Linked DNA regions of Homo sapiens: region 2 is linked to region 1. Evidence: fine-mapped expression QTL. A gene starts in region 1. The other region holds a variant in brackets. All regions are shown on one strand. Distances are between the middles of the regions. Region 1 holds the start of ZNF19 (zinc finger protein 19). Region 2 has its middle 89 kb from the start of PMFBP1.

What was found. PIP is the estimated chance that this variant, and not a neighbour inherited with it, causes the effect.
Region 2: its variant is the best candidate, but not a certain one, in a credible set for the expression of ZNF19 in aorta (GTEx, PIP 0.90).

The regions. Positions count from the first base shown.
Region 1 is chr16:71,486,436-71,491,820 of GRCh38, forward strand. It overlaps ZNF19 (zinc finger protein 19), which reads right to left and starts at 2,889. Exons shown (of 6, transcript NM_006961.4): 1 at 2,837-2,889.
Region 2 is chr16:72,258,097-72,263,481 of GRCh38, forward strand. No RefSeq gene overlaps it. Among named protein-coding and RNA genes, the nearest start is that of PMFBP1, 89 kb to the left of the region's middle. The variant G/C (reference allele first, on the strand shown) is at 2,628.

The sequences.
Region 1 (5,385 bases):
GAATTGAAAGAGAATCACAAAAATGACAGCACAAGAAGGACTTGGCCCAACCTCACTGGCTTTGAAGATGGAGGAAGGGGCCAAGGGTCAAGGAAAGTGGGTGGCCTCCAGAAGATGAAAAAGGCAAGGAAACAGATTCTCTCCTTAGTCTAAATCCTGAATTTATACCAGTGGGACCCATTTTGGATTTCTGACCTCCAAAACTCTAAGATAAATTAGTGTTGTTTTACGCCACTACTCATGGCAATTTGTTACAGCAGCAATAGAAAATTAATAGACACACATGTACATACCTCTCTTCTTCCCCCAATTCTAGACAACCACTTTCTTTATAGATTTGCCTATTCTGGATATTTACATTACATAAATGACCATTAAGTCTGGATATAAAACAAAAACAAGTCTCTATTGTTAATTTTATCGGTTTTTAGAAACATGGGAACCCGTATGTTTACTTGGTGAAGAGTTGAGTATATTCTTGGCCAGAAGATGGGAACACTAAAATTAAAAACAAAAAGAGTTGGGAATAACTTATTTTTGTTTTGCAGGGAGTGGAAAGGAAGAAAATTTCCACTCTCATTTGTCTGGAAAGTCTCCCAGAGAGTTTTCAAGATCATTAATAATAATAGCTAATTCACACTGACCTGTCTTCCCAGCCAATGTATCACCTCTAAGGAAATGTATACTTGATATGTTTTGGCTCTGTGTCCCCAGGCAAATCTCATGTTGAATTATGATCTTCAGTGTTGGGGGAGGAACATGGTGGAAGGTGATTGGATCATGGGGGCGGATTTCCCCCTTGCTGTTCTCGTGATAGTGAGTTCTCATGTGATCTGGTTGTTTCGAAGTGTGTTGCGCTTCCTCCTTTGCTGTCTCTCTCCTGCTGGCCATGTGAAGATTGTGCCTGCTTCCCCTTTGCTTTCCACCATGATTGTAAGTATCCTGAGGCCTCCCCAGCCATGCCTCCTGTACAGCCTGTGGAACTGTTAGCCAATTAAACCTCTTTTCTCCATAAATTACCCAGTCTCAGGTATATCTGTATAGCACTGTGACAACGGACTAATACAATACTCATACTCATGTCTGTCACAATCTCTACCATCAAACATAATTACTTTCAAGCTTTGACCATTCCTTAGATTCCAATGGGAACCACCTTTCTTTCTGGTCACCTCACAGCCTAACTATCCAGCTCTCCCTCTAACTCCTACAGTATCTTTAACTGAAGCTATAAGTAATATCAGATCATGATACCCAGAGTATGGTGTATGATCATGGCATATTTACTGTTACTTAATCCTGACTTGAAAATACTAACTTCTCTCCCATATGTCTGAAAATCCCAGCCACAAATAGGCTGAGGCTGTGGTGGAACTTAAGTTTCATGCACAAAGTCATTTTTGCCTTGGCTGCAAAAAAATATGTAGTTAAGCTAAATATTGTGCTGCAGTATCTATACTGACATATAATTCAATATTATTCTCTCCTTGCAGCTGCAAACATACTTAATGATGAAAGACAGAATGTCTTTCCCTCCAAGATTGGGAACATGGCAGGTATGTCTGCTCTTACCACTACTATTTAACATCATATTGGGAGTCTTAGCAAGAGCAAGGCCAGAAAAAGAAATAAAAGGCACATAGGTCAGACACAGTGGCTCACACCTGTAATCCCAGCACTTTGGGAGGCCAAGGTGGATGGATTGCTTGAGGCCAGGAGTTCAAGACCAGCCTGGCCAACATGGAGAAATCGCATCTCTACTAAAAATATAAAAATGAGCCAGGTGTGGTGGTGTGTGCCTGTAATCCCAGCTACTCAGGAGGCTGAGACATGAGAATTGCTTGAACCCGGGAGGTGGAGGATGCAGTAAGCTGAGAATATGCCACTGCACTCCAGCCTGGGTGACAGAACGAGACTATCTCAAAAAAAAAAAAAAAAGAAAAAGAAAAAGAAATGAAATGAAAGACACACAGATTCGAAACTCAGAACAAAACTGTTACTATCTGCAGGCAACATGATTATCTGTATAAGAAGTCCCAAAGAATCTACAAAACAAGCTCCTAAAATTAAAAGTGAGTTCAGACTGGTCACAGTGGCTCACGCCTGTAATCCCAGCACTTTGGGAGGCCGAGACAGGCGGATCGCCTGAGGTCAGGAGTTTGAGACCCGTCTGACCAACATGGTGAAACCCCGTCTCTACTAAAAATACAAAAATTAGCCGGGTGTGGTGGCAGGCACCTGTAATCCCAGCTACTCGGGAGGCTGAGGCAGGAGAATCACTTGAACTCGGGAGGCGGAGGTTGCAGTGAGTAGAGATGGTGCCATTGCACTCCAGCCTGGGTGACAAGAGCGAGACTTCGTCTCAAAAAAACCAAAACAAACTAACAAAAACATAAAAACACTATGGGACAATGGCATTTGTTTGGACACAGGTCTCCAAATCTGCCTCTTCAAAAGAAACAGACACTGCAACTGCAAGAGCCTTGGTTAAAGACTTAAGCCGGCCCCAACTAAGAGTGGGGATGGCTTCCCTAGGAGGTAGGAATCAGCTGGAGTCCTTGCCTCTCCTGGTGCCCAGGCAGTGCCATCTGCAGACACTTCTGTCATCCTCCCATCCTTGGGGGGCTCTTTCTCCAGCTCCAGTTCGTGAGCGGCAAAGCTTGCAGCTGTACAGCCTCCAAGAGCAAACAGCCCAGGTCCCACCCGGCCACAATTGTATAGTGACGCCCTCCCCGTCCCCTTCTTTGAGCTGCGCTCAAAGGACCAGCCTGGACTGCTATGCTGTCTCACTCCCAACCCAAGCTCCGCCCAACTGTGGGTCCTTGCACTTTGGCACCTTTGAGCGCGGACTCAAAACAGGCCAGAAGCGCACCGCTAGCGAGAACGGTTAGGAGGCCGGAAGTGCGTCACGCTTGTGGGGCGCTTGGAGGCCAGAAGTGCGTCATGAGCACGGCTGCTCTTTCTACGGTGCAACTTTTCCGCATCTCGGTGTTTCCGATTGGGAGACATCCTCTTCCTTTCCTTGTACACACTTTTTTCTCTCCTCAGGAACCTCACGCCTGGGTCATTGTCCATTTGGGTGGGTCAAGAAAGCGATCGCTTCTGCCCGGGAGCAGTTGATTGTCAGGAAGGAATTCGTGATAAAACCGCCATCACCACAGGCCTAGATGGTGGCCGGTGTTTCCTGGTTGCTTACTGGTCTTTCTGAGTTCTGGTTCACTCGCAGTGAATCAACTTCCTTTCACAAGCTCTGCCACTCACGGGCCATTGAGGAAGACCCTTGTGTCTCTGAGCAGCTTTTGTCTTCTGTAAAATGAGCCAGTCAGATTATACCATTCAAGCTGTCTTTAATTCCATGCACTGTAACCTCCAATGGTTTGCCACTACCCCTGGAGTCCAAGTCACCATTCAAGGCTCCTCAGACCCTTGCCCTCCTTCCCCTCTAAATGATAAAGAAAATGCCAAAAGCGCAGGGCATATGGGCTAAGAGAGATAGCTCTAAAGTGTTAGTGCCTGTGGCTTTCTGGGTCCACAAAAGAGAACTCTGGCCAGGATTTTGCTGGACTGTCAAAACGTTTGTGATCACTGTCACAGAATTACAAAACAAACTGGGGACTTAGAGCTTCTTAGTCCCATCTCCTTTACAACAGTATGACATAGTGGTAAGGAGCACAGCCTGGCATCAGGATGCTTTGTTTCAAAGGCCAAAGGACCACTCTGTGACCTTTGGTGCATTACTTAACCTGTAAGTGTCACATTTATTTCTAAAACTAGGATAATAATAGTATTTATTCCCCGGATTGTTGTGAGGATTAGATGTTAGTACATGTAAATCAGTACAATGTCTAGCACATACTAAACACTCACTAGATATTAGTAATTATTACACTCACTAGATATTAGCGATTATTAATAGCTTAGGAATTGAGCCTGAATAGGCTCTGGAGTTAATCCAGTATTCAATCTTTTTATTAAAACCTTTGAAAATGGTTATAAACCTCAGTGGGTTTGGGCATCTGTACACTTTTTACTACCAGACTAGATAGTATAAGCAAAGCCTGGTGGCAGTTCAGGGTTGGTTCTTAGAAGATCAGAGTGCTAAAATAGCTAGCTCATCATGAGCTGAGGACTTCCAGGATGACTAGTTGGACTTGCTGTTCAGTTGGGACTTCAGCAACACAAGTCCAGACAAATGGGACCATGATCCAGGTCTTCAAGAGCAACCCTCAGGCTTTCTGCAGAGTGTAAACTCCTCAAGAAAGAGGCTTTTCTATCTTGTCCATGACTGTATCCTGAGTTTCTAGAATAGTGTTTATAACACAGTTCATGATCAATAATCATTTTTTGATGAATAAAGAGTTGGACATATATGATTATACTCCCTTACTATAAGGGAGAGTGGGACAGATAATACAAGCACTCAACGCAGAATGAATCATGAGTAAGAGAAAACCAAGACTCAAAGAGTTTCAGTAAGGCCACAGCATATAATAGGTATCAGAGTTAAGATTTAAACCCTAGATTATTTCCACCATGTCAAACTGGCTTTCCAGAACAATATACTAAGTGGTATTCCAAGTCCCAATACGCCTTTCTATGCTCTCACACCGTGGACACAAGCTTTCTGACCTCAGTCCCTTCAGGAAGAGAGAGAGAGAAGAGCAACAGTAACTGTAAGAGGAAAAATCATCAAATTCTGAAATAAGGGCCAAAGAACCATATAAGATGACACGAGTCCCATTTTACAGATGAGGAAACTGAACACAGAAAGATTAAATAACGTGCTCAAAGTCATGCACAGCTCTTATGTGGCAGAGCCAGAATTCAAACCATGATAGTTTGGCCTCAGTATACACACATAAGCACTCTATCACTGCCTCAGATACGTAGTTCTGTGTCTCATAGTGAAGAAGTTGAAATATGTTAAGCCAAACTAATGTTTCCAAGCCTCCATTTATTAACTGTGATTTGGGGCAAGTTACCTAGATTCTCTGTGCCTTCAATTTTCTCACCTATAAAATGGGTACAATATTAATACCTACTTTGTAGGCTGTTGAGAGGATTAAACAACATGTGAAAATCATTTATTTTCATATCTAACTTATTGTAAACATTCGCTACATTTCTAATTAATTGATTGTTTCATTTTTATTTAGTTTTTTTTTTCTTTAGAGTAGGGGTCTCTCCATGTTGCCCAGGCTGGATTTGCACTTCTGAGCTCAAGTGATTCTCCCCAATCAGCCTCTCAAATAGCTGGGTATATAGGCATGTGCCACTGTGCCCAGATAAGGTATAATTTAAGTTCAGTAAAGAGTACAAATCTTAAGTGTAAAACTTGATGAATATTTATATATGTAACTTCAACCTGATCAAGATATAGAATGT
Region 2 (5,385 bases), 770 kb after region 1:
TAATGTTGAAACATTTCAATGAAAAGTAAGTCCAGATTGAAATTATTTGGGCCTGGCCAACATTTAGATTTAATGATGAAAGTGAAAAATTACTTTAAGTGACAAAAATATAGGAATGCTCAAAATTTCATATCTAAAAGGAAATTTATTTTAATTTGATTTAACCAGGTAAGTTCATGAGTAAAAGGCACTCTGCTAGGCATGGGGTGGGGGAGGGAATACAAAGATGAGTGATATATGTGTCCTATGTCTGGAAGGGTTTAGAATTTAGCAGCACAAAGAAGATATATAGAAATAGCTATGCTATAAAAGGGGCAAAATACTGTGTTATCTCAGAGGATTATAAGCAACTTCTTGGGAGAGGTCAAAATCAACCAAACTCTGGAGCAGTGGAAGGATTTTAACCTATGGAACTGGATGAAGGGAGAAGTCTCTGCAGAGAAGTGTTATGGGTTGAATTGTGTCCCCCAGAAAGATACGTTGAAGTTCTAACCACCAGAATCTGTAAGTGTGTCTTAGTCACACTCTGTAAGTGCACTTATAAGATGATACCATGGCCGGAGTGGCTTATAAACATCAGAAATTTATTTCTCACAATTCTAGAGGCTGGAAGTCCAAGATCAGGATACCAGCATAATCAAGTTCTGGTGAGGGCATTCTTCTGAGTTGCAGACTACCATCTTCTCATATCCTCACAAGCGGAAAGAGGACAAGGAGCTCTCTGGGGTGTCTTTGATGAGGACACTAATTCCATCATGAGGGCTCTACTCTCATGATCTAATTACCTCCCCAAAGCTCCACTTCCTAATACTATTGCACTGGGGGTTAGAATTTCAATCTAAAAATTTTGATGAGGACACAAACATTCAGTGCATACAGAGTGTGACCTCCTTTGGGAATTGCGTTTGCAGATATAATCAAGTTAAGATGAACTCATCTGGATTAGAGCTGGCGTCTTTATAAAAAAAGGGAAATTTGGACACAAATATCCAGGAGAGAAGGCCATGACAAGATAGAGGCAGAGACTGGAGTGATGTATCCACAAGCCAAGGAGCACCTAGGGCTGCAGCAACACCAGAAGTTAGAAGAGGCAAGGAAGGGTTCTTCCCCTAGGGCCTTCAAAGAGAAGATGGCTCTGCTGACACCTTGATTTTGGACTTCCAGCCTCCAGAACTGGGCAAGGCTACATTTCTGTTGCTTGAAAGCACCCAATTTGTAGTGCTTTGTTATGGCAGCCTTAGGAAACTAATGCGAGAGGGAAAAAGATGAGGCCTAGAGGTAGGAAGTGTGGGACTTATTCTGAAAGGTGAAGTTTGGATTGGCTGGAGAGCAGTATGTGTAAAGACCAATTATAGAGATTACGTCTGGGAAAAAAAGGAGCCCAGATGGTGGCATTTGGGGCTTTTATCTGTAGCATATAAAGCACTATTAGGAGAGAGAGTCATGGAAGATTCAGGACATGCTGGAAGAATAGATTGGAAGAAATGGGAGCAGGTAGCAGGTTGCAGTGAAATTTGAGACGAGAGGTGACATGCTGGACAGTGGCAGTGCTCACGGAAAGTAAGTGTTAGATTTGACAGGGGTGGAGGTAGAGTTGATAGAACCTGGAGACTAATTAGGTGAAGAAGGCACAAAAATAATTTTTGAGTCTGGGAGATGGGAAACAGGAAACCCAGGGGGTAGAGTTGGTTTGGAAGAATGTGTTGAGGAGAAAAGTCTAGTTTTTAGTAAATGTTTATGTCCAGCAGAATGCTGGAAATGTGAACTTGCAGTATTTGTTGGGATAGAAATATAGATCTGGGAGCCAGCTGCACTGAGGACATAGTCAATGGCCTGGAAATGGTTGCAATCATCACAAGAGTTGAGTGATCATAAATGGAAGAGTTGAACACTGGGGGAGCACCTCCATTTAGAGGGTGATAGAAGGATGAGGCAAATATAAATTAGAGTTCCAAGAGGGTAGCCAAGATCAATCCAAGTCAAAGAAGCCAAGGATGTGTTTTATGAAGGAGAGGGTGATCAATGACAGAAAATGCTGCAGAGAGATTGAGGAGGACAAGGACTCAGGAGAAGTCATCAGATATAGGGATTAGAATGTCAATAGTAATTTAGGAGAGGACAGTTTCAAATTAATGGTATGAGAGGTCACTTTAAAAGGGTTTAGAAATGATTAAGAGTGAGAGAGGCTAATATTCATGGATTATTCTTTTGGCAGGTTTGGTAATGAAAAGAAGGAGAAAGATGAGCTTTTTGTTGTTCTTGTCATTTTATGGTAGAAAAATATTTAAGTATATTAATATGTAAAAGAGAAGAAACCAGAAATTTGGGAGACTTGTAAAAAACAAAACAGAATGGAATAACTGATGGAACAGGGCTCTGGAAGGAAAAGAGATGGATTTCGACTAAGGAGCAAATTAGCTTTGGAGTTTGCAGATGGGGCAGTTTCCTTTCTGGCACAGGCAAGGAAATAATAGGAGGGGTTGTAAATCACTTGGATGTGGAAGGGGGAAATTGAAGTTCATCTTAGAAAGTCTCATCTCAATAAAGCAGAAAGCAGGTCAACTTGGGAGAGAGATGTATGGGTGAGTGGGCTGCAAGCTTGAGGGATGGGAAAGATGATATCTTTG[G/C]GGAATATGATTGAGAGTAAATAAAAGAATTGCTAACAGGCCTAATTGAGGTGGTAGCAATAGTGCTAATTGACATATTTAATTTTAATTGACAAGACATAACTTTCTACAACAAGGTCTGCCAGCTTAGGAGAAGCATGCAGGTGGAAAAGCAGATGATGAAGAGAGTCCAGTGTTGGTTTTAGGCCTAATTTTCTCCTTAATCCAAATCCATCTCTCTTCCTTCCAGAGGAAGCTCATAATACAAGGGATCCCAGGGCATAGTAAAGGCTAGGTTAGAACAGGCATTTGAAAGGCTTCTTGGGTGAATGTCAATTCCTTGTCCTTCAAAGTAGCCTAAAAGTAGCGAAAGAATAAAGAATAAAGAAAAAATTGTAGGTAAAGGATAAAAATCATGTTCCTTTCTTCCTTCTTTCTTTTAATTTATTCATTCAGCATATAAATAATTTGCCAAATGCCCCTCCATGCCATGGCATGGGAAAGGAAGGCTGCGCATCAGGTCTGTAAGATTAGGTTGCTTACTCTTCAGTGTGTGAAATAACAAGAACAGTACACACTCAGCTTGCACTATCTACCAGGAATTGCTGTAAGTGCCTGTCCACATATTAACCATATTAACTTAGTACTATAACCTTCAAAAGTAGGAACAATTATTTTGCTAATGATATTACTGAACTTCAGGGAAGTTAAGTGACTTGTCAAGGTCACATAGCTAGTTGCCAGCATAGCTGGGGTTTTAGTAAGTCTGGTTCCAGGGTCTGTTCTCTTAATCACTATACTATATGAACTAAAAAGTTTTGAAATGGGTTATAAGTAGGATGATTACATATTCTTCTTTTTTTTTTTTTGAGATGGAGTCTTGCTCTGTCACCCAGGTGAGAGAAATGGCGTGATCTGGGCTCACTGCAACCTCTGTCTCCTGGGTTCAAGTGATTCTCCTGCCTCAGCCTTCTGAGTAGCTGGGATTACAGGCGTATGCCACCACACGTGGCTAATTTTTTGTATTTTTAGTAGATATGGGGTTTCGCAATGTTGGCCAGGCTGGTCTCGAACTCCTGACCTCAGGTGATCCACCCGCCTTGGCCTACCGAAATACTGGGGTTACAGGCGTGAGCCACTGCACCCAGCCAATGATTACATATTCTAATCATTCTGGGATGGTCCAGTTTATGCCTGTTGTCCCAGGAAAAGTATTCATTGTATGCTCTTTCAATAAAAAGTCTGAAGGAGAAGTTACATGGTTACTTTAGTTATAAGAGAAACTGATCAACCACAGGGCTTTTCTTCAAATTCTTCAATGTTGGCTCATGTGATGTATAGAGACTAAGAACTGTAAGGCATTTAAGAAAAATAAATGAAATGGCTCTGCCTTTCTATGACACACTACCTCAAGACCCACAAGAGCCAGCTTCTTTGATTCCCTTGGTCAGATCACAGCCCCTTCCCCAACCCCAGTGGCCTCCATACTTCAACTTCAACCTTACTGGTTTTAATGAAAGGAGAAACACAGAAAGGCACATTCTCTAAGCTACCACCAAGTGGAGTTCTGCACACCTATTCTTTAAGCAGTGTTGGAAATTGAACACACAAAACCCTACAGCAAATCTGTGCACCCATCTCTCTCTTCCTCATCTCCTTTCCTTATCTCTACTCTCAGGCCAGCACTCCACTGTTCATGCCAAACGTCAGGCACAATAACCACATGTCATATAGATGTACAGCCTCAGCCAAAGCTGTTATAGGGCTAACGCCAGACCTTTTGCAGCAATTCTGGCTGTTTTGTGGCTGTTGGTAATGTCTTCATTTCCTGAACTCCTTCTCCTTATTGTTTTTAGGCTCCAGTGAGAAGCAGGGAAATTGGTACTAGCAACGTGGCTCTGGTACCCTATAAGAAAGTGTTGTGCTCTTGTTGTTGCCATATCAGCTTCCTCGGAAGATTTAAAGATGTACACTCAACTCCCTATGGATGATTTTAAAAATGTATCACTAATGGTCACTGATGACAGGCACTTATACATTGGGATTTGGCTCTTACTCTAATGATACTATTTTAAATGCTGCAACGTGCAAAAATGATGGTAATGCCTAGGCCAGAGTAAGCAGAAAATCAGCTCAGCAAACTGAACAGAAGACATTCATCCAGGGCTTCAATATCCTGTCAAGTGACCACTGTTTTGTATGGCTTTATTATTCTCTGAGGTTTTAATATGCTGGTCCACAGAATTCTCTTATTATTTCCTTGACTGCTTTTCTATTGTCTCCTCTGTCTGTCCTGGATCCTCTGTTTTTCCTTCCTCTGAACTCAGTCTTGCAGTGAGTTTATGCATTCATAGTGATTTCAACTACAATTTATATTACAAACAGTTCCAAATACACATCTGAGCTGCCTGATGGGCATTTTACTCTTTCTCTCTTCCTTCCTTGGTAAGCTCGTCCTCTAATATGATTTCAATAGTGGCTAACATTTATCATGTCTCAGGCATGGAGTTAATGCTTGGAACCCTACAAGCAGGGGCGCTTACTATTATCATCTTTGTCCTCCAGAGAAGGATCTAGTAAGTGGTAGAACTGAGATTTGACCCCAGACAGATTTGCTTCAGAACCTGTGCTCTTAACCACCACATTATGATGCCTCCTCACATTCAGACACTTGCTCTCTACCTCCTGACTAGACTATCCCAATAGCTCCTTAGTGCTCCATCTGGCACCAAGCAGAGCTCAATACCATTTTTCACATGGAAGGTTTACCATGTTCCCT